Homo sapiens: one gene and its partners. The protein of the gene in region 1 purifies or fractionates together with the protein of each later gene. This does not show direct contact. Each region holds a gene or a part of one and is shown in the gene's direction. Other genes may lie near its edges.

Region 1 (3,500 bases):
CCCCTTTGACCCTTTCCATTTTGTCAGTGTTGTCTATTCATTTAGACTAAGGCTATGGCAGTCAAAAAGTCGACAGTCAAAAAGACACCTTTTACTTCCTGATTACCAAGTGTGGAAAAAAAGTAAAAAAAAAAAAAAAAAAAAAAATCAAAAACAAAAAAGACACTTTTGGGGCTGGGTGTGGTGGCTCATGCCTGTAATCCAAGCACTTTGGGAGGCTGAGGCGAGAGGATCCCTTGAGCCCAGGAGTTCAGGACCAGGCCTGGCAACATAGTGAGACCCACCCCCATCTCTACAAAAAATTTAAAAATTAGCCAGATGTGGTGGTGCATGCCTGTAGTCCCAACTACCTGGGAGGCCGAGGCAGGAGGATTGCTTGAGCTCAGGAGGCTGAGGCTGCAGTGCACCGTGCTTGTACCACTGCACTCCAGCCTAAGCAACAGAGTGAGGCTCTGTGTCAAAAAAAAAAAAGACACTTTTAGCCACAGACATACTTAAAAATTGGTACATTTTACATTAAAATATCGATTTACGTCCTCTCTTAAAAATTGGAAAATCTGGGCAAAATCTGGGTTCACTTTTTTAAAGAAATTATTTTTATTTCAGTAGCTTTAGGGGTACCAAGTGGTTTTTGGTTACATGGATGAATTGTAAAATGGTGAAGTCTGTCTGGGTTTTTAGTGTACCTGTCACCCAAATAGTGTACATTGTACCCAAAGGTTAACATTTTTGCACAGGAACAATATACTGGAACTAAATAGTGGCTGCCCCACAGACAGGCAGGTCACATGCTCTGCATTTGACATAGTCTCTGAGATTCCCTATTGTTTTAAACAAGTCATACACTCATTTACATTACCTGTCAATTATATTACATAACATTACCTTACATTACATTTACATTACCTGACCCTGAATACTTGAGTATGCAGTCCCCGATCTAAGTATTAGGGCAAGTATATCTGATGCATCATATGATGGAAAGTCTGCTGTACTTAGCAACAGGAACTGGGACTTTAAACATTGTAGATATATTTTGGTTAGCAAACCTCTTAAATAATGTGATCATGGGAGTGGGAGAAGAGATTAGCATTCATTGACACTAATTGTTAGTGTCGATTAGAGCTGGAAGGGACCATATATTGCTAACCAAAACAAATAAAATACTTTCCCTGGTGGGATTTTAGAAAGCATGGGGAAGATATTTCTGCTAAGGAAGTATTTCCTAGGATCTTGTAAATAATCTTTTTTTTTTTTTTTTGAGACGGAGTCTTGCTTTGTCACCCAGGCTAGAGTGCAGTGGCATGATCTTGGCTCACTGCAGCCTCTATCTCCTGGGCTCAAGTGATCCTCCTACCTCAGCCTCCTGAGTAGCTAGGACTACAGACATGCACCACCATGCCTGGCTGATTTTTTAATTTTTTGTAGAGATAGAGCCTCACTATGTTGCCTAGGCTTGTCTCAAACTCATGGTCTCAAGCAATCCTCTTGTCTCGGCCTCCCAAAGTGCTGGGATTACAGGTGTGAGCCACTATGCCTGGCCTCCTTAAAAATTCTACTCCCTGTCCATTTGAGAAGTGTTTAGGAGAGTTTTTGTGACTCCTACAGCTTGGCTATAAAGAGGAGTTTACTGTTTTTCTTTTGCCTCCCCATTCCACTGACATGTTTGGAGCCAGAGATCCAGGTCTTCCTATTCCCAGCTGTGTCCTTCAATGAAAGATCATCTTCCGCTTGCAGAGATGGTGAGGAGGCCCAGACTCCAGTGATTACCACATCAATTTGCTTGGGAACAGAACTCCTGAAGCCTCAGGTTTCTGGTTGTTCATGGTATTTAGTTTAGCATAAATTCACCCCATTTTATTTTTTATTATTTTAGTTAGTGCATCTAGATCATCAGTCTTCCTTTTGTAGATAAGAATCATGTGTCTTATTTGGGATGATTTTGGATCAGACAGTTTTCCTGTTATCTCTTTGTCATTCATTCACTAGCTCAAATACGAATAGAGCTTGTACTATGTCCTAGGTGTTGTGCGAAACACTAAAACTATAGAGAGGAATAGAGCAGTTCTTACCTTTCAGGGGCTCATAGTTTGGTGGATATACTTCGAAAAGTATCACATACTGTCATATAAGGGCAAAGTGTTATTTATACTTATTGCGGAAGGATATCAAGGCAGGTTGAAAGATTCAAAAGATTCTTGATTTTCTTTCTTTCTTTTTTTTTTTTTAGACAGAATTTTGCTCTTTTGCCCAGGCTGAAGTGGCACCATCTCGTCTTAGTGCAATCTCCACCCCCTGGGTTCAAGTGATTCTCTTGCCTCAGCCTCCCGAGTAGCTGGGATTATAGCCATTCGCCACCACGCCTGGCTAATTTGTATTTTTAGTAGAGATGGGGTTTCACCATGCTGGCCAGGCTGGTCTCGAACTCCTGACCTCGTGATCTGCCCACGTTGGCCTCCCAAAGTGCTAGGGTTACAAGCATGCGCCACCGCACCTGGCCTTTTTGTATTTTTAGTAGAGACGAGATTTCACCATGTTGGCCAGGCTGGTCTCGAACTCCTGACCTCAGGTGATCCACCTGCCTCGGCCTCCCAAAGTGCTAGGATTACAGGTGTGAGCCACTGCACCTGGCATAAGATTCTTGGTTTTCGGTGAGGAATTGTGTATTGGTAGGAGGGAAATAGATCACTACTTCGTATAGGTGAAATAGGATCTAATTTCATATTTTTGAATTGCAATGAGGTTTATGACAGGTTTTATAGTATCATTTTTACTTCATTATTATTTTTTGGACATTTTATAGTATCATTTTTATTTCATTATTATTATTTTTTGGAGACAGGGTCTCGATCTTTCACCCAGGCTAGAGTGCAGTGGCGTGATCAGGGTTCACTGCAGTCTCTATGTCCCAGCTTCAAGCAGTCCTCCCGCCTCAGCCTTCCGAGTAGCTGGGACTACATGTGTGCACCACCACACCTGGCTAATTTTTCTGTTTTTTGTAGAGATGGGGTTTTACCATGTTGCCCAGGCCTCACCCTCCTAAAGTGCTGGGATTACAGGCATGAACCAATGCACCCAGCCTATAGTATACTTTTTTTTCCTTTTTTTTAGAGATGGAGTCTTGCTCTGTAGCCCAGGCTGGAGTGCAGTGGCCTGATCCCGGCTAACTGCAACCTCCACCTCCCGGGTTCTAGCAATTCTCCTGCCTCAGCCTACCAAGTAGCTGGGACTACAGGCGCACACCACCATGCCTGGCTAATTTTTTGTATTTTAGTAGAGATGGAGTTTCACCATGTTGGCCAGGCTGGTCTCGAACTCCTTAGCTCGGGCAATCCACCTGCCTCAGCCTCCCAAAGTGCTAGGATTACAGGCGTGAGCCACCATCCATGGCCAGCCTATAGTGTAATTTTTTTTTTTTTTTTTTTTTTTTTTTTTTTTTGAGATGGAGTCTCATTCTGTTGCCTAGGCTGGAGTGCAGTGGCACAATCTCAGCTCACTGC
Region 2 (3,157 bases), on another chromosome or scaffold:
TCCTCCCACTTTCGCCTCCCAATGTGCTGGGATTACAGTCATGAGACACTGCGCCCAGCTATTTTCTTGTTTTTAAAAGAACTCTACTCTTTGAAGATAGAGACACAGGGGTCATTGTGATAGCCCAGGAGGGCAATAACAAGGGCCTGAGCTCAGTTCTGGCACTGGGTCTGGAGAAGGCAGGGTTGAATAGTAGTTAAATCAAGCAATATTTCGCTGTAGACTTGCCTATGGAATCAGAATTGAGAACCTGGAGGAAAAGCTTAAAGGGTCTCAGAGCAGACAAAACAGATGCCACAATCTACACCAAAGTTGTGCATCTTCCTCGCTGGGAAGAAGCTTTCTCAAAGCCTGCTGACTCTGCCTTTATCCACAGTTTTAATCATCGTAGCAGTTCGGAAGCAGCCAGTTAGAAAGTGGGGCTGTCAAAGGTGGACGCATTGATCTAAGTGTGAGGAAACAACTGACAGCTTGATGCGAGGGAAAAGTCCTACGATTGTACAACTCAGGAACTTTACTAAAAATCGCTGAATTGTAAGCTTAAAATGAGTGACTTTTATGGTGTGTGAATTACACCTCACTAAAGCGGTTTTTTTGACAAAAGTGGACCAAAAAACAATGCAAAGAAATTTTGAGAACTTGGAAGACGCAAGAGTGTGTAGAGTCATTTAGTGCAAAGGCAAATAGCACGTCATCCCTCTCAACAGATGTAACTGGGACTGGTGGTTTGTTAGTTAACAAAAAATATTTTTTTAAGTTATATTTTTTTAAGTTAGTTAAAGGAGGCAATCATGGCTGGGCACGGTGGCTCACGCCTATAATCCCAGCACTTTGGGAGGCTGAGGCGGGAGGATTGCCTGAGGTTAAGAGTTCAAGACCAGCCTGACCAACATGGTGAAACCCTGTCTCTACTAAAAATACAAAATTAGCCAGGTGTGGTGGCGCACGCCTGTAATCCCAGCTACTCGGGAGGCTGAGGCAGGAGAATCACTTGAACCCAGGAGGCAGAGGTTGCAGTGAGCGGATATTGCACCATTGCACTCCAGCCTGGGCAACAAGAGTGAAACTCCGTCTCAAAAAAACAAAAACAAAAGGAGAGAATCATAAAAATGATACATACATTCTTTTTTTTTTTTTTTTTTTTTTTTAGACAGAGTCTTGCTCTGTCACCCAGGCTGGGGTACAATGGCACAATCTTGACTCACTGCAACCTCCACCTCCCGGGTTCAAGCAATTCTCCTGCCTTAGCCTCCCAAGTAGCTGGGACTACAGGTACCCACCACCATGCCTGGTTAATTTTTGCATTTTTAGTAGAGACAGGGTTTCACCATGTTGGCCAGGCTGGTCTTGAACTCCTGACCTCAGGTGATCCACCTGCCTCAGCCTCCCAAAGTGTTGGGCTTACAGGTGTGAGCCACGGCGCCCAGCCAATAGATACATTTGGTTTCTTTGTTGTTGTTGTTTTGTTTTGTTTTGTTTTGAGATGGAGTCTCACTTTGTCTCCCAGGCTGGAGTGCAGTGGCATGATCTCGGCTCACTGCAACCTCCACCTCCCGGGTTCAAGCAATTCTTTGCTTCAGCCTCCCGAGTAGCTGGGATTACAGGCACCTGCCACCACACCTGGCTAATTTTTATATTTTTAGTAGAGATGGGGTTTCACCATCTTGGCCAGACTGATCTTGAACTCCTGACCTCGTGATCCACCCACCTTGGCCTCCTAAAGTACTGGATTACAGGCGTGAGCCACCGTGCCCGGCCGATACCTTCTTTAAACCATTTATTTTTGTTTTAAACATAAAACATGCGAGGTGTAGTGGCACCCCTCTAGTCCCAGCTACTCAGGAGGCTCAGGTGGGAAGATCGCTTGAGCCCAGGAGTTTGAGTCCAGCCTGGGCAACATGGCAAGACTCTATCCCTAAAAAATAAAAGTAGGCCGGGGTGGTGGCTCACACCTGCAATCCCAGCACCTTGGGAGGCTGAGGGTGGATCACTTGAGGCCAGGAGTTCAAGACCAGCCTGGCCAACATGGTGAAACCCCGTCTCTACTAAAAATACAAAAATTAGCCGGGCGTGATGGCACACACCTGTAATCCCAGCTACTCCAGAGGCTGAAGCAGAAGAATACCTTGAACCCGGGAAGCGGAGGTTGCAGTGAGCCAAGATCGCGCCACTGCACTCCAGTCTGGGTGACAGAGCAAGACTCTGTCTCAAAAACAAACAAATAAATAAATAATAAAAATAAAACATATACATTCATTTAGCATATTTTGATGCAGGACCAGGACCTTTTCTTCAAGGAGGCCCTCCCTGGTTGGAATCTGCCATGTCTTTCACACAAATCACACCTTAACTCCCATTTCCAGTTTCCATTTCTTTTAGGTAGAAAAATAATTTAAAGTTCATCTGAAAGCAAAGTCCTAGTTTTTACAATGTTTTCTCTCATCTTTTTTTGAGACATTGAGGTATAATTTGCCTATGGTAAAATTCATCCTCTGTAGTGTGTCGGTTTAAGAGTTTTGACAAACACACACAGTCATGCAGCCACCATCAGCCAAGATATAGAATATTCTCCAGTCTTTTAGGGCTAGATCTTCCACACCCAATTCGGCCACAGTTTTTTTAGCATCATCTTTATCAAGATTTTCTAAAGCATTTAATTAAGTTTTTATAGAAACAACAACTCTCTTTTTGTGCTCATTTCATCAATTTATATTATATTTCATTAAATTATGCAATTACAATAACAAATGTAATTCACACCAGAAAGTTTGAGACCAAACACAATTGACTGTGGGTAACATTCAACTCAGGTGTGCAGGAGCCTCAAGGAGCCTGCTGCCTTCCAGGGCTCGGCGTTTTGTGGACATCTGTCAATATGCTTTACAGGAGAAATGGAGGCGGGTTAAGCTAGAGAGTCATTGGGGTGAAGATCTGCCAGGATAGCTGTACATGAATCCCTGACCAGTGCAAACTTTGGTATTCTTGTCATAGTTCCTCATCAGTAGGGAAAAAGCTAGATTCCATTCTGTATCCTGAGCCTCCTTAAGAAGAGAAGGATACAAAGCATTTTAGAAAGTTCTAAATTATCAGCACAAGCCGGGCATGGTAGCTTACACCTGTAATCCCAGCACTTTGGGAGGCTGAGGTGGGTGGATCT
Region 3 (4,283 bases), about 17 Mb from region 1:
TCCGGTTCAAGCTGCCTTACTCACTTTTTTTTTTTAATTTAAAAAAACTTTGGATTTTTTGTAGAGACAGGATCTTGCTATGTTGCCCAGGATGTTCCTGAACTCCAGGCCTCAAGCAATCCTCCCACCTCGGTCTCCCAAAGTGCTAGGATTACAGGCATGAGCCACCACACCTGGTTCACCTTACTCACTTCTATTCCAGGACGGTTCAACTATGATGTTTTGGCTCCTCTTCTCAAGCAGCTTTCCACACCTGGTTCCATGATCTCTTCTGGCACAGTAGCTGGTATTTGGCAAACATAGGTTTCATCCTGGGATCTCAGGGATTGAAATCTGTCCTAGGTGTGCACCAGAAAGTGGTGGCAAGAGATGAAGCTTCGGAGGAGGCTGACCTCGGCCAGGATTCTTAAGTCTCAAAGTTTCAGCTTTCTCACCCCTCAACGGACATGAAATCTACCTATTTGTAACTCCAGGGAAGTAAATGAGATAATGTTTGGAAGATATCTAGTCTACCAGCTGCTCAGGCGGGGGGCGAAGGTTCTGTTCCCTGTCCCTTCTCTATCAAATGGCTTTAAAATCAGAAGAAAGTATTACGGGTAGGAAATGGGACTGCGAAAAAAATGGAGGCTGATTCTGGCCTAAAGGATACTTATCTCTATACAAAGGGCTTCTGATTCAAAGAGGCCCCGGGATTCAAAAACACAAGCAGAGCTACACCACGTGGGGTTTGGGACGAGCTGAATTCCGGATAAAGATGCCTGTAAAGAGGAGTTGATGCGAATCCAGAAAAGCACTTGAAATGCCCAGGCTTTGCATGGCACATTCCCCAGGATTTTTTCGCACCGCATTTAGAGGTTTAGACGGAGTGAGCTCGAATCAGGCCAAAAGCCTTAGGTTACTCCTGGGCGGCAGCGGGGCAGAGGTCAGATCAACAGGTGTGGAAGGCTGCGAGGTGAGGGAAGAAGCAGGTGTCGGTGGAGGCCCCAGTTCCTCCGGCCCAGAGGCTCCAACGCTGCTATTGGTGTTCCAGCAGCGGGCGGAGGGGTCCTGCCCGGCATCTGGGCGCGCTGGGCCCAGAGCCCGGGAGGAGGCAGACGGAGGCGGCGGGTCAGCGGCGGGCCAGCCCCGGTGGGCTTCCGCTCCCCTCCGCCGGCCCGGTCCGGCCCGCCGCGGAGGATGCCTGGAGGTTGACGTGAATGGCCTGTGGCTGGGAAGCCCCCAGGCGCCCTGCCTAGCCCGGGGGCGGGGCCGCCTAGCCGCCGGCCCCGGTGGCGTGAGGGCTGGGGCGGGGGCCGGGGACCTCGCGGGGAGGGAGCGGGAGGGAAAGCGGCCCCCGCGGCCCTTCAATTGGCCGCACCGCCCCTCGGCGCAGAGGCGGGAGGAGGCGGCCCTCCATTGGTCGGGCCCGGCGGCCAATCCTCGAAGGCCCAGGCGGAGGCGGGGGCGGCCTGTGGGGAACCGAGGTGCGGGCGGCGAGCGAGGCAGCCGGGTGCTTCGCAGCGGAGCTCGAGGCTCTGTAGCACCCAGTTGGACCCAGTCGCCCAGGCACCGCCCGCGCCCCGCGGCCGTCTCCTGCGCCTCCCAGAGGAGGGAGTTCGAGCATCCCCCGCGGCGGCCACTCCTCGGGGCCAGGAGCGGGGAAGCGAAGTGCGAGAGACCCCGGACCCCAGCGCTGTCTCTTCCCGCCGCCCGAACCACCATGACCCACTTCAACAAGGGCCCTTCCTATGGGCTCTCGGCCGAAGTCAAGAACAAGGTACGCCTGGCTCGGGCGGGCGCGGGGGCCCCCGGGGCACCCTTGGGCTGGCCTGGCGCTGGGCCGTGCTTCGTTTGCTCTTCGCGCTGTGGCTCACCGTTTTCCTGGAGAGGGGCCGTCGAGGCGGCGCGAGCGTCTCTGCCTGTCCCGGTCGCGTCCAGTCCCCGGGCTTGCGGGGCCGGCTCCCGGGCACCCGCCTGGCTTTGTTCCCGCGCCGTGGGACAGGACTAGTGGCTGGCGGTGGGTTCCCGGGCGCCTGGAGTCCCGCGGCGCCAGCCTTTCCGGCTGCGGGGGTCTCGGGGGCCGTTTGGTGACTGCAGAACGCGCCCTCCGGGAAGGGGGCGCTCCTGCGTGGCCACTCGCCCTTAGGCGGAGCCCGTCTGCGCGGCCAGGGACCCGGCGAGCCGCTGCCGCAGCCCCCGCCATCTGCCCGGGCCCCGGGTGCTGGCGGACTCCGCGCCTCCCCACGGGGAGAGAGACCGCCTAATGTCCCGCCGACCCCAGGGGCCCCGAGGAACGGAAGCCGGTCCGGGACCCATCACAGTCTCCGATCTCGGTGCCTGGGAGGCATTTGGAGGCAGATTGCTGCTGCTGCTTCTGCTGTTGCTTTTGCGGGAAATGGAGACAAAGCCTGAGCGCGCCACTGTGCGAGTGATATCTGCTTAGGCTTGAGACTTTTTATGAAACACTGAGAAGTTTGAAGTACATTAGACTTTCACGACATAAAGGATTATTTTTGTGGGTTGCTTTTGTTTGGGGCTTGTTTGCTGAGGCGGCTTATAGTTTGGAGCGATTGGGATTTGGTGACGCTCAGCTTTGCCACTGAGCCCAAGAATGCGTTAGGTTTATCTTTAGGACTTTTGGCCTGGGAAAGAGATGAGAGGCGTCCCCCTCCCCAAATCCTCTCCTTCCTTCCTCCCTCCCTGCATTCCAAGCCCATGACATCAGGGGTTTCTGGGGGGAGAGACCAGCCAATCGGCGCGGAACTGTGCACAGAACGCTCATTGTCTCCTTTCTGCTGTTCTGGCCAAAGCGCCACAAAGGAGGGCTGCCTGTGGTTTAATTCCCATTAACCTCCCGGGAGCCCAAGCATGTCAGGATTGCCACCGCACCGTCCGACCGCTGGTGGAAGGCACTGGCATTGTCAGAGCTGGAACATCCCGGGGCTGCGGGGGTAGGCGGTGTGAAGCGAATTATGTAAAGAGGTAATGAAGCGCACCGTTGTCAAACCCCAAGGGAGAGTTGTGGCTCTTGTCTCCCGCTGTTAGTCTGCACATCATACTGTCTTTGAAGCAAGGAGTTGATTTTAGTCTATGTATCTAAAGTTGAAATGTTTAGGTCCTTTACCTTTTCAAACGTGTTGCCCGTATTAGACAACAGTTTGCTAACAATTTTTTTAGAGAGCAGAAAGGTGAATGGTTTGTGTATGATTGAGTGCAAACCTCACCAACTGAAAAGTTTGTAACAAGTTACTGTTTCCTTCCTTCCAGGATTTACAAACCGAACTTTAGGAAACTTCAGAGGAATGGGCATGTCCAAAATGTTGGATGTGATGTGATACTTTGGCCTGGTTGTGCACATTCATTGTAATTCCCCCCAGTGATTCTTGGCTGGCAGCAGTTGAGTCTCTACTACCTTTTGCATTGTAAATGAGGTACTGATAACGTTGGCAGCCCTTCAAGTGACTTACTTTTCTTGGATGTTAATAATATCCATGCTAATTTCTTTTTTGCTGACTAATGTAGCAGCTTTTGCCCTTTTCCTGCTTAATACTGAGCAGATCCAAGGAAATGCATACACAGGCTAGATCACTGTAATTATTGTAAATATTTAAAAACGGTAAAACCTCAGTTTTTAGAACCTTTGGAAAGTTAGTTATGAAAGCTGTGGATTTATCCCTTTAAGCACCAAACCCATTTTTTAATAACCCGTTTCATTTTTGTAGTCCTTTCAGACAGTATTCTTTCATAGGAAGTCTTTTGATCTTAACAGCAGAGCAGTCCTGTAAGGTGAGGAGGATTGCTGGGATTATCCAACATCATTTACAGATCAGTACACTGAAGCTCAGAAAGATTTGCTCAAGGTCACAGAAGTTGGACTATTCTAAGAATTTTAACTCTAAAAGCGATGTCTTAGTTGAGTGAAGTACTTAGGGATGTTCTACACAAACTCTGCTGTCTGTCGCCTTCCCCCCATTTTTTTTTCTTTCTTTTTTGAGACGGAGTCTTGCTCTGTCGCCCAGGCTGGAGTGCAGTGGCGCGATCTCAGCTCACTGCAACCTTCGCCTCCCAGGTTCAAGTGATTCTCCTGCCTCAGCGCCCCGAGTAGCTGGGATTACAGGTGCCTGCCACCATGCCCGGCTAATGTTTGTATTATTTAGTAGAGACAGGGTTTTGCCATGTTGGCCAGGCTGGTCTCCAACTCCTGACCTCAGGTGATTCCCCCTGCCTTGGCCTTCCAAAATGCTGGGATTACAGGCGTGAGCCATGGCGCCCAGCCCTTCCTCCCATTTTTGCTACCCACCTGT
Region 4 (2,739 bases), on another chromosome or scaffold:
AGGTGTTTTATTGAGCATCTGATTTGTGTCAGCACCATGTAAATATGATGAGGAGTATTTGGAATAGACTTTACATTCACCAGAAAATTGATAGTATTTGTTAAACCAATGCATCCATTCAAAATAGAGGCAGAGTAAACAGCCTAAGAAATGATTTCCTTTCTACAGTCTGCTAGGAGAAAGAGGTGAGAGGGGAGTGGTTGATGATTTTAATCAAGAGTAAAGGGAACATTTATTACATGAAATCTGACTTCAGTTGTGCAAAGGTATGTTAAGACATTAAGACAATTGCTGGAAGGTTTCAAATATGTGTACACACACATAGAGCTACTTTTGTGTGTTTATTTATATGTATATTTCACAAAGGCTAATGCCCACAGAGGAAAATGATTATTTTAACTTCTGGGTTATCATCTGCTGGCAGGGTCTGATCAGGTCTAGAGTATTTAAGGAAAAGTCTCCTGTCTTCTATCTCCACTAGAAGTACTGCAGCTTGAGAGCTGAAAGGAACTTGAAAAATGTTATCCAGTCTTCACTTAGCCCATTTTTATCGGCATTAGGAAATAGGGTTCAGCAATGGTTATTGATTTAGCAGTCTGGTCTTATATGATCTGCTTTCTAATTATCTATCTAGTATTCCTATATTATACTGGAACTTCAATAAATTATAACCTATGTGAATATCATAAATTCTTGTGAATTTTTGTCTATTTCCAGTAGAGAAGCATACTCAGCCAATGTTTTCACTTAATAACTATGACAACCTTAAAGGATGTCACTTAAGTTAGAAAATAAGCAGGCTTAAGAAGTGATTCTAATTAGGACCCCCACTCAGTTTGCTAGTCATGCCTGCCTGACAGAACATAAGCTTTTGTAAAGTATTTAGACTGATAACACATGCAGTATGAAAACATTATAGACTGCAGTTAGAAGACTAATTTTTTAAAAGCACTCAAAACATAGAACTAAGATTTAGAATATATGTCCATTTATAATGAAATAATTTGTGTTCATAATGTGAACATGTAAGATAAGTAAATAAAGCATTACTTGTTTTATAATATCAGGAAGAGAGAAGGAAACATTAGTTTATAACAATGTGCTATTTAATATCTGTATTTTGAACATTTAAAATACTCTGATGGTAAGGTTGCCAAAGTAATTTTGAATTCATAAAAATTGTTTATACCACAATAATGTGGGATATGTTTACAGGCTCTTTTATTTTGTGGTAGTTACTTTATAGTTCAGATGAATTTGCATTTCAGTCACTTATAGTAAATAAAGTATATTAAATATTTGTTGGAATAAAAATCTCAATGTAATAGGACATAGATAAATTATGCAACAGCCTGCTTTGATGAAAGCTGGTGCATTATGTGAGCTGCCACAGTTAATACTTTGTATTAACATTGCTTACTTCCCCCATTTGCTTCACCTATCTGACTACAATTGCTGGAATCATTCTTTTTGTGGTGCTTCCTCCAAGTGAAATAACTATGTTATTAAAACCTACTGGATTAATTTTATCAAATATCAGACTTACTGATCTCTTGGCAGAGATTTATTGGTGTCTCAGTGTGATCACAATACAAGTTGTAGCAACCATTTTATAAAACTCTTAGAGAATTATGTAGATAAAATGGAAATTACATAATCCTAAAACATTTTTGAGGGCTAATTGATAATAATTTCAGCAATTTTATTAAGAACCCAGTAAATTAATCCCTAATTTGTATGTTTTTTGTTCAACTTACCGTGTCTGCAACCATTATATAGACTTCATTGATACTCAGCAATTACTACAGTGTGTCTTACAATGTTATAAAAAACAAACAGCAATCTCTGTTTCTGCCAGAAGTTAGATATTTTTTTATAGTCCTGATGAATTTGTTGTGAGTAGACACCACATAGTTATTTCTGTTTGCATATAAATTTGCTGCTATTTATTTGTATGTTTTTCTACTGTAGTATGCTATTGATTTCTGAAGTTATAATCATAATTTTTATTTTAGTAATCCAAGCTAAATGGGCAACCAGAAGTAATATCTGCTAGGGTGCAATCCATCAGCATTGGTTCAGTGCATATACATAAGTAAACCAGTTTAAAAAAATTTTACTAAGCAAAAGGTAGTAGCAATATTGCTAGTTAAAGATTACCATTTTAGGGGAAAGTTCAAAGGTTTAACTTCCTGAAACCTTTTAAACTTTTCAGTGCAAGAATGAAAATGTTTGAAAGCCTTGTTAAGCTCATAAAAGTTTCATTTAAACACTGTAGAGTTTCCTACCTTTGTTGTGTAAAGGATATAGAAAATATTTTTCTATGGACAGAAGGTTGAAACTGTTAACTTCTTTAATTTCATTGTTTAAAGGAGATAAAATGTTATTTGTGTGTCTTTCATGCTGTAAAGAAAATGAATGTATCTTTCAAATGTCATTAGAATTATGGCTTGATTCTAAGGATACTCTATTTGTTTTAAAGTCTACACGGGATTGAAAAGAAAGGGAAGAGTATTACACTTCATTGTACAAAATGTAATTTTAGAAGAAAAACATTTTCATTATAAACAAGAGCAATCATTGAAGCATTTTCAGATATAATGTACATTCTTTTTCATTTTGCTTTGCCTCTAGAATAGAAACTTTTCAGAAAATTTGCACATACTGTTTGTAAGTATAAAATAATTGAATTCTAGACTTTTGGAGTGTGGAAGGGTGTTTGTGTGTGAAGGTAATAAA

What was found. Proteins that work in one complex are often made in the same cells at the same time.
Region 2: the proteins of NEXN (region 1) and CORO2B purify together in Homo sapiens (co-immunoprecipitation; one large-scale study listed by IntAct). This does not show direct contact.
Region 3: the proteins of NEXN (region 1) and CNN3 purify together in Homo sapiens (co-immunoprecipitation; one large-scale study listed by IntAct). This does not show direct contact.
Region 4: the proteins of NEXN (region 1) and PTPN4 purify together in Homo sapiens (co-immunoprecipitation; one large-scale study listed by IntAct). This does not show direct contact.

The regions. Positions count from the first base shown.
Region 1 is NC_000001.11:77,891,624-77,895,123, forward strand, and holds part of NEXN (nexilin), read left to right. Parts: intron 1-3,500. UniProt on the Homo sapiens protein: Involved in regulating cell migration through association with the actin cytoskeleton. Has an essential role in the maintenance of Z line and sarcomere integrity.
Region 2 is NC_000015.10:68,721,993-68,725,149, forward strand, and holds part of CORO2B (coronin-2B), read left to right. Parts: intron 1-3,157. UniProt on the Homo sapiens protein: May play a role in the reorganization of neuronal actin structure.
Region 3 is NC_000001.11:94,924,311-94,928,593, reverse strand, and holds the start of CNN3 (calponin-3), read left to right. Parts: upstream 1-1,483; 5' UTR 1,484-1,699; coding exon 1,700-1,756; intron 1,757-1,853; exon of another isoform or gene 1,854-2,234; intron 2,235-2,824; exon of another isoform or gene 2,825-2,961; intron 2,962-3,246; exon of another isoform or gene 3,247-4,283. UniProt on the Homo sapiens protein: Thin filament-associated protein that is implicated in the regulation and modulation of smooth muscle contraction. It is capable of binding to actin, calmodulin and tropomyosin. The interaction of calponin with actin inhibits the actomyosin Mg-ATPase activity.
Region 4 is NC_000002.12:119,979,922-119,982,660, forward strand, and holds part of PTPN4 (tyrosine-protein phosphatase non-receptor type 4), read left to right. Parts: 3' UTR 1-2,739. UniProt on the Homo sapiens protein: Phosphatase that plays a role in immunity, learning, synaptic plasticity or cell homeostasis. Regulates neuronal cell homeostasis by protecting neurons against apoptosis.